3 linked regions of the Homo sapiens genome follow. Changing the gene in region 1 together with any one later gene gives a genetic interaction. Each region holds a gene or a part of one and is shown in the gene's direction. Other genes may lie near its edges.

Evidence for each region.
Region 2: changes in BNIP3 (region 1) and BMF together harm fitness more than expected from each alone (negative genetic interaction), as found in Homo sapiens cells (one large-scale study listed by BioGRID).
Region 3: changes in BNIP3 (region 1) and BCL2L12 together harm fitness more than expected from each alone (negative genetic interaction), as found in Homo sapiens cells (one large-scale study listed by BioGRID).

What each region holds. Positions count from the first base shown.
Region 1 is NC_000010.11:131,967,119-131,969,650, reverse strand, and holds the end of BNIP3 (BCL2/adenovirus E1B 19 kDa protein-interacting protein 3), read left to right. Parts: coding exon of another isoform or gene 1-24; intron 25-1,081; coding exon 1,082-1,127; 3' UTR 1,128-1,967; downstream 1,968-2,532. UniProt on the Homo sapiens protein: Apoptosis-inducing protein that can overcome BCL2 suppression. May play a role in repartitioning calcium between the two major intracellular calcium stores in association with BCL2.
Region 2 is NC_000015.10:40,087,248-40,089,654, reverse strand, and holds the end of BMF (bcl-2-modifying factor), read left to right. Parts: 3' UTR 1-1,765; downstream 1,766-2,407. UniProt on the Homo sapiens protein: May play a role in apoptosis. Isoform 1 seems to be the main initiator.
Region 3 is NC_000019.10:49,668,873-49,671,776, forward strand, and holds part of BCL2L12 (bcl-2-like protein 12), read left to right. Parts: coding exon 1-65; intron 66-151; coding exon 152-243; coding exon of another isoform or gene 244-292; intron 293-1,343; coding exon 1,344-1,616; intron 1,617-2,904.

The sequences.
Region 1 (2,532 bases):
GTAGGTTGGCCAGAGGGCTCACATCTGGGGTTGAAGGAAACGGGATAAAAGCCACTGAGTTTCCTGGGCCGGGACCTGAGCGCTGCCCGTGTCTCCACCTCGCCCTCCCGTGTGCGTGGCTTTCTCCTAGCTCTTGGGCACATTCTCACGTCCCCCCCATAACCCGTCACCTTCATTTCTGCTGGTGCTTTTGGGAGTCAGACCTACAGACTGCATCAGCATCACCAGGCAGTTTGCTTTCTGGAGCCTTTTCCAGAACTGTCAAGCAGACTCTGGGGGCAAGGCCTCGGGATCCTCATTTTAAATACAAGGTTTAAGCCCTTCGTTTCAGGATGGATTTCTGCAGCCACTACTTCCCAGCTACTGTCCTTCGTCCTGCCCGGGTTTTCAGAGCCTGATGCTGCCACTGGCGACCCACACCCCCTCAGCTGCTTTTCAGAACCACACGATAAAATCTGCCCCGAAAGCTGCTGCAGCACTGTCTGCGCTCACAGTGCCCACCACACCACCGCCCACAGGCCAGGCCAGCCAGGCTTCCGATTCTGCCCTTTCCTGGAGACCCATCCTCCTCCCTCCGGGAGTGATGCCCGCTGGTCAGCTGGAGCGAGCCTCTCTATTGCCGAAAAGCCTTTTCTGACACTCCTGCATCTTTAGTTTGGGACATCTCTCCCACTACCAAACTTAAACCACATGAGGGCAGGGGCTTCATTTTTAAGCAGTTGGCTTTGGTGAGGCTGGTGGTGATGAACTAGCAACACCATCTTGCCCTGGTAGGTGACTTCCCCCAGCACTGAGTTGGAACAAAGCAGAAGCTTTCTGTGTGGAAACAGCATTCGGTTTGGTGATCCTTCTATGTAAGAATACGATCTGATGTTTTCTAAGTTAATTAATACAAAATACATATTGATAAAACACTAGATAAAAGATCACAGATAGATTCATTACAAAATTTTTATAATGGGTATAAAATCACCAGTCCCCTTGCATAAGCTCTAACCACAGTGAGCTACCCTGTTTCAGCTGTAACACAGTCTCCTGTGAATCACAAGATACATTAACTACTGATAATTTTTCTGTGAAGGATCTATATTGGAAGGCGTCTGACAACCTCCACCAGCACCTTTTGATGAAGAACTGGAGTCTGACTTGGTTCGTTAGTGGATTACTTCTGAGCTTGCAACATAGCTCACTGAAGAGCTGTTAGATCCTGGGGTGGCCACGTCACTTGTGTTTATTTGTTCTGTAAATGCTGCGTTCCTAATTTAGTAAAATAAAAGAATAGACACTAAAATCATGTTGATCTATAATTACACCTATGGGATCAATAAGCATGTCAGACTGATTAATGTCTACTGTGAAAATTTGGTAGTAAATTTTCATTTGATATTAGATATAAATATCTGAATATAAATAATTTTAATATACTAGTCATGATGTGTGTTGTATTTTAAAAATTATCTGCAACCTTAATTCAGCTGAAGTACTTTATATTTCAAAAGAATGAATAACATTGATAATAAAATCGCTACTTTAAGGGGTTTGTCCAAAATAAATATTGTGGCCTTATATATCACACTATTGTAGAAAGTATTATTTAATTTAAATGGATGCAGGTTGTCTACTAAAGAAAGATTATATATAACTATGCTAATTGTTCATAATCAACAGAAACCAAGATAGAGCTACAAACTCAGCTGTACAGTTCGTACACTAAACTCTTCTTGCTTTTGCATTATAAGGAATTAAGTCTCCGATTATTAGGTGATCACCCTGGATGATCAGTTTTCTGCTGAAGGCACCTACTCAGTATCTTTTCCTCTTTATCACTCTGCATTGGTGAATTTAATCCTCTCCTTTGTGTTCAACTTTTGTGTGCTTTTAAAATCAGCTTTATTCTAAGCAAATCTGTGTCTACTTTAAAAAACTGGAAATGGAAAAAAAAATAAATCTTTGCCAAATCCTTCAGATTACTGTATTTACATATGGTTTAAAATCAGACGTCATGATAGCTTCTTAATGAAACCAGGACTGGTCCCTATTTTGACATTATCTTTCCTACAGCAAACTTTTTAGAAAGGCTGCCTGCCGCCTTGATGTTTCACCTTTCCACGCTTAATTCGGGTGTTAAATCTAACGTTTTCATTTGTAAAAATCTTTGTTGATGCTACCTTGGAAGCAGTCATCTCTCAGTCTTACATTTGGAGAATGTGGATGGCATGACATCAGAATTCCTTTATATAATTTAACTTCAGAATAGTCTGAGATCATCGAAGCACGATGGTCAAGGGAATTCCGTTTTTGTTTTAGAGCAAATATGTTTGCTGTTTGTCTTTCATCACAAACATCAGTGGAGTTTCAGCACCTTACAGAGCTCAGTGAACCCCCTGGTCACCATCAAAGTTAGCACACAACAAAGCCAACCACGTGTCCCCCTCACAGATGACAATGGCTGAACTCTGAGTGAAACCACCTGTATGGCCGGGCACAGTGGCTCACGCCTGTAATCCCAGCACTTTGGGAGGTTGAGGTGGG
Region 2 (2,407 bases), on another chromosome or scaffold:
GTTCAGTGAGAGAGAAAATGATTTAGATCTTGGTGCTGGGGCAAGGCCATCAGCTTCAGAGACCTTGCCAGGCCCAGGCTGGGTGCCCTGTGGCCTGAGAACTGAGCCCAGACTTTGACAAACCCACCTCAACATCAAGCCTGGGGCAGGTGGAAGGTGGTCTGACTGCACTGTCTCCATCTTATGCAAAGCCAGGAACTCACTCACTGTCTTAAGTGAGCCAGGGCAAAATTTACACCCCTCACGTTTCCCTCTCCCTTCTTCCCCACCAACAAAACCCAGGAGGTAGCTGGCAGAGTAGCTGTCAGGAAGGAGAAAGGTTCTTTCTGGCTGGTTGTTTTTAATTGGCTTAGTGATCTAAACTGGCCCCTTCCTCCTCTGCCTGGTGAGTTGGCCTAAACATTCCTCAAGTCTAGCCTCAGGAGACCTGCCCCTCCCCCCCGACCTCCACCCCCTCAGACTCCATCCCCCACCCCCAGGAGCCTGGCTGTCTCTAGCGAGGGGTGGAGAATCAGATTTAGAGGGAGGGAGAGTCTGACCTGGATCCTGACCTGTAACCAGCTGAAGACGGTGGAGGCTTTGTGGCTTGCTGAGGGTGGGGGTTGGGAGAGGGACTGGAAACCTTCCTCCTCGGGAAAGAAATGCCTGGGAGGAAGGGAAGCCTGATATTCAGGGTCAAAACAGCCCTTCTAATTCACAACCCCAAAGCAGGGGTTTCTAGAAGTTGGTCAACAGATCTGGTGAGGGAAGTCCCCAGGCCAGACGCTGGACTCCTGCAATGAGGGTGGAGGACTCAGCCTGGCCTCTGCCTGGCCTGTTTCAAAGTCTGGGCCACTGGCAGCCTTCTCTTGCTCAATCCGAGGTGGAAAAAGATCACCTCCCAGTGACCTCCCTCAGCCCCCAGGGGAGTAGGTCTGTGTCCAAAGCTATGTGGCAGGCTTGTTTGAAGGACCCAGAGGGGCCCAGCTGACCTGTCTCACTGCTCCTGGCAGCCCAGCCCCATCGGCAGGTGGCCCCTGCCTGGGGGTTATTCGGGATGGTTCAGCCAGGGCCTCCCAGGAAGAGTGCTGTGGAGCCACGGTGACTGTCCTGGACAGCAAGGAGCATGCTACCCCAGTGAGCACTTCTTTTTGAGGGACTTGATGGGGAGGTGGGGTAGGCAGAAGGGACGTGGCAGAAGCGGGAAGACTTTGGTCACCATGGCTCTGCAGGCCTTCTGCAAATCAGTGCTGGCCTGGGCTGGAAACAGCTCTGTGTGTGAAGGTGAGGACTCTTGGAAGCAGGCCATCCTGGCCAGACACCCTAGCAGGAAGGGGCTCACCTGTCACCCTTAGGCAGCCTGAGGGCTGGTGGGGACTTTTGAGTCTTGAGGGGATAGCGGAAAAAGCTGAGCTCATAGGTGCCCAGCCAGCCTCCCAGCTAAAGGTGCTCAGAGCCCCACTGCCCCCTCTCTCTGTGCAGGTGGCCAGTGCCCCTCCCTGCTCTGGGAGCATTGCTAGCCTTCTACCCCATCCCTGGATCCACAGGGGCTATCGAGGAGACCCAGTGAGAATGTAGCATTTTGTTCATCCCCAGGGTAGCTGCCCTGGGGTCTGGGCACTCTGCCTCTGGGAGAGAGGAAGAAGAAAGGGGCCCCATTTTTTAAAAAACTGTACAGAGCCTTTGGCTTTATGTGTTTATGTTCTTCACATGCATATGTGTGTATGTGTGTATATCTTTCCCCCCATCAATTGGTACAATTTTTAATAAAATCATTTAAAGCAAATCTGGTCTTTTATTTTTCAAGGTGTGGTAAAAATGCAAGGAGATCAGTTAGGAAATTAAAGCCTTCTAGCTTTCTCAGCTGCCAGCTTGAGTGACCTGAAGGCGCTCAGCTTTCGCCGTGATTTCCTTTCCCCTCTTGGAGTTGAGAAGAGTGATTCCGACCACCACGCGATAGGCAGCACAGCAGAGGCCCTGTGAGGGGGAAAGATGCAGGTTTTGGACCCGGTTCCCTCCTCCTCCAGCTGAATGATCTTGGGCAAGTTATGTCACCTCTCTGAGCCTTCAGTTCTTCCACGTGTGAAATACGACTGTGCCGGCCTTGCAGGATTAAAGGGAATGTGTCAAAAGGGCCTGTCTGCCACTGGGACCCAGTGAGGGAAAGGACCCCGGCAGCCCCTCCCGCACACACTACCCCACCCCTCCTTTCTATCAGGGTAGCCCCTCAGGAGGCAAGCTAGTTGTAGGGGGACTTCCTGGCTTGCATTTCTTTGTGGATTAACAATGTGTCTGATTCAAAGCGGTGATTTAAAGCTCTTGACAGAGTTCTGAAAATCCTTGGGAAAAACTACTCCTGATCCTATCAGCAGTAAGTTATGAACTGAGGGGCCAACCCGCCCTGCATCTGTTGGGCTGTCCTTGATTT
Region 3 (2,904 bases), on another chromosome or scaffold:
TGCTTTGGTGGCCCAGCGGCTGGAACAGCTGGTCCAAGAGCAGCTGAAATCTCCGCCCAGCCCAGGTGAGGCACAGAGGAGCCCCAGAGAAGGATGGCGGTGGGAGGATAGTCAGGGTTCTGCCCCCAGCCAAATTCTCTTCTGCCTCCAGAATTACAGGGTCCCCCATCGACAGAGAAGGAAGCCATACTGCGGAGGCTGGTGGCCCTGCTGGAGGAGGAGGCAGAAGTCATTAACCAGAAGGTGATGGGCATCTGTCCCACTCCTTGGCAAGGACAGGAGTTGCGGAATGGTGGGGCACTGGGATCAGAAGCTGGATCTGTATTTTCTTTGGATGGTCAGGTGGAAAGAGGCTGGGACAAGGTTTCAATGAAGGGTTGAGGCCGGGTGTGGTGGCTCACGCCTGTAATCCCAGCACTTTGGGAGGCCGAGTTGGGTGGATGACTTGAGGTCAGGAGTTCGAGACCAGCCTGGCCAACATGGTGAAACCCCATCTCTACTAAAAATACAAAAATCGGACAGGTGTGGTGGTGCGCTTCTGTAATCCCAGCTACTCAGAAGGCTGAGGCAGGAGAATCGCTTGAGCCCAGGAGGTGGAGGTTGCAGTGAGCCAAGATTGCGCCACTGCACTCCAGCCTGGGTGACAGAGTGAGACTCTGTCTTTAAAAAAAAAAAAAAAAAAGAATAGTTGAATGACAGGGGTATGGTTAGGGTAGTACTGTACCGTAAATTAGTTGTTTTAATTGATTGTTTAGAGGGGCATGGCCTAAATGCAGAGGGTGTGGCCATCAGAAACATTATCCACAAGAGACTGGCCAAGCTGGGGAAGTAAGTGAATGAATGTGGGGGTGGGGGGAGTGGCTAAAATCTTACTGAGCATAGAAGGGACCTGGCTTAGAATGTAGGGGAAAATGTACTACCAGAGGAGGTGTGGCTTGTGGCTGTGTCCTGGAATCTGATTGGCTTCGGAGCTTGGACAAGGTACATCGTCCTTTAATATTAATTGAATGGTAGAGGGCAAGATTGTTGTAGACACTAGGTTGGCCCCTGGGAAAGGTCACCAGGGGCATGGCTAGATTAACTCAGTTACAGTAGAGATTGGCCCTGATTGGCTGTTGAGGCAAGGGCCTGGCATGGCTTAGGGACTCACGTTCCAGGCCACTATCCCGGGGGTAGTTTGGCAGAGACCCTGGAGTCTGGCTTGATTGGCTAATATGGATGAGGGGTGGCCTAGAACCTTAGCATCTAGAACGATCCTGAACCGGGAAGCCACGCCTCCCGGCCCTCTATTGGCTGGCCCCGGGGGCGCTGCTGACGCGGACCCTGCCTCTTCCACCCTACAGCTGGCCTCGGACCCCGCCCTGCGCAGCAAGCTGGTCCGCCTGTCCTCCGACTCTTTCGCCCGCCTGGTGGAGCTGTTCTGTAGCCGGGATGACAGCTCTCGCCCAAGCCGAGCATGCCCCGGGCCCCCGCCTCCTTCCCCGGAGCCCCTGGCCCGCCTGGCCCTAGCCATGGAGCTGAGCCGGCGCGTGGCCGGGCTGGGGGGCACCCTGGCCGGACTCAGCGTGGAGCACGTGCACAGCTTCACGCCCTGGATCCAGGCCCACGGGGGCTGGGTGAGCCGCTGAAGCCTCTCTCTCCGGGCCTCACTTTACCTAACTGTCATGTGATAGAGGAGGGGCGGGGACTTCTTAGGTTCCTCTCAGACCTCAGGTATTCTCCCAGCTCCACTGCGTTCGTTCTGTTGAGCCCTTGCTGTATGCCAGGACTGCAGCGATGAGTGCAGACACTATGCCTGGCGTCAACGACTGGGTACGCTAATACTGTGAGCGTGAAACCAGTGACTGAGGTTACTCAGGGAGAGGCCGGACGGGGTAGCTCATGCCTGTAATCCCAGCACTTTTGGAGGCCAAGGCAGGAGAATTATTTGAGGCCAGGAGTTCAAGACCAGCCTGGACAACATAGTAAGACCCCATCTCTACAAAAATTGAAAATAACTAGCCAGGGTCGGGTGCGGTGGCTCACACCTGTAATCCCAGCACTTTGGGAGGCCGAGGCAGGTGGATCACCTGAGGTCAGGAGTTTGAGACCAGCTGGCCAACGTGGTGAAACCCTGTGTCTACTAAAAAAAATACATAAATTAGCCGGGCGCGGTGGCAGGTGCCTGTAATCCCAGCTACCGAGGAGACTGAGGCATGAGAATCGCTTGAACCTGGGAGGCAGAGATTGCAGTGAGCTGAGATCATGCCACTGCACTCCAGCCTGGGCGACAGAGTGAGACTGTGTCTCAACAAAATAATATAATAAAAACCTGGTGCGGTGGCTCACACCTGTAATCCCAGCACTTTGGGAGACTGAGGTGGGTGGATCACTTGAGGTCAGGAGTTTGAGACCAGCCTGACCATGGTGACATTCAGTCTCTACTAAAAATACAAAATTAGCCCGGCATGCCTGTAATCCCAGCTAGGGAGGCTGAGGCAAGAGAATTGCTTGAACCTGGGAGGCAGAGGTTGTAGTGAGCCGAGATTGCACCACTGCACTCCAGCCTGGGCAACAAGAGCGGGGCTCTGTCTCAAAAAATAAATAAATAAAAATTTTTAAAATTAATAATAATTAGCAAAGCATGGTAGCTCACACGTTTACTCCCAGCTACTCAGGAGGCAGAGGAGCCGGGAGGATCACTTGAGCCCAGGAGTTCAAGGCTGTGGTGAGCTATGATTGCGCCACTGTACTCCAGTGTGGGTGACAGAGTGGGACCCTGTCTCAAAAAATAAAATAGTGAGAGTAGTAGTGCTACCTCAAAGGGTCGCTCTGAGGGTTAAAATGGGGTCAATGTGGTAAGCCCTCTGTGCACTGCCTGGCATGCAGGCATTTTGTTGGTGAGGTTATATGGCTACCTGCTGC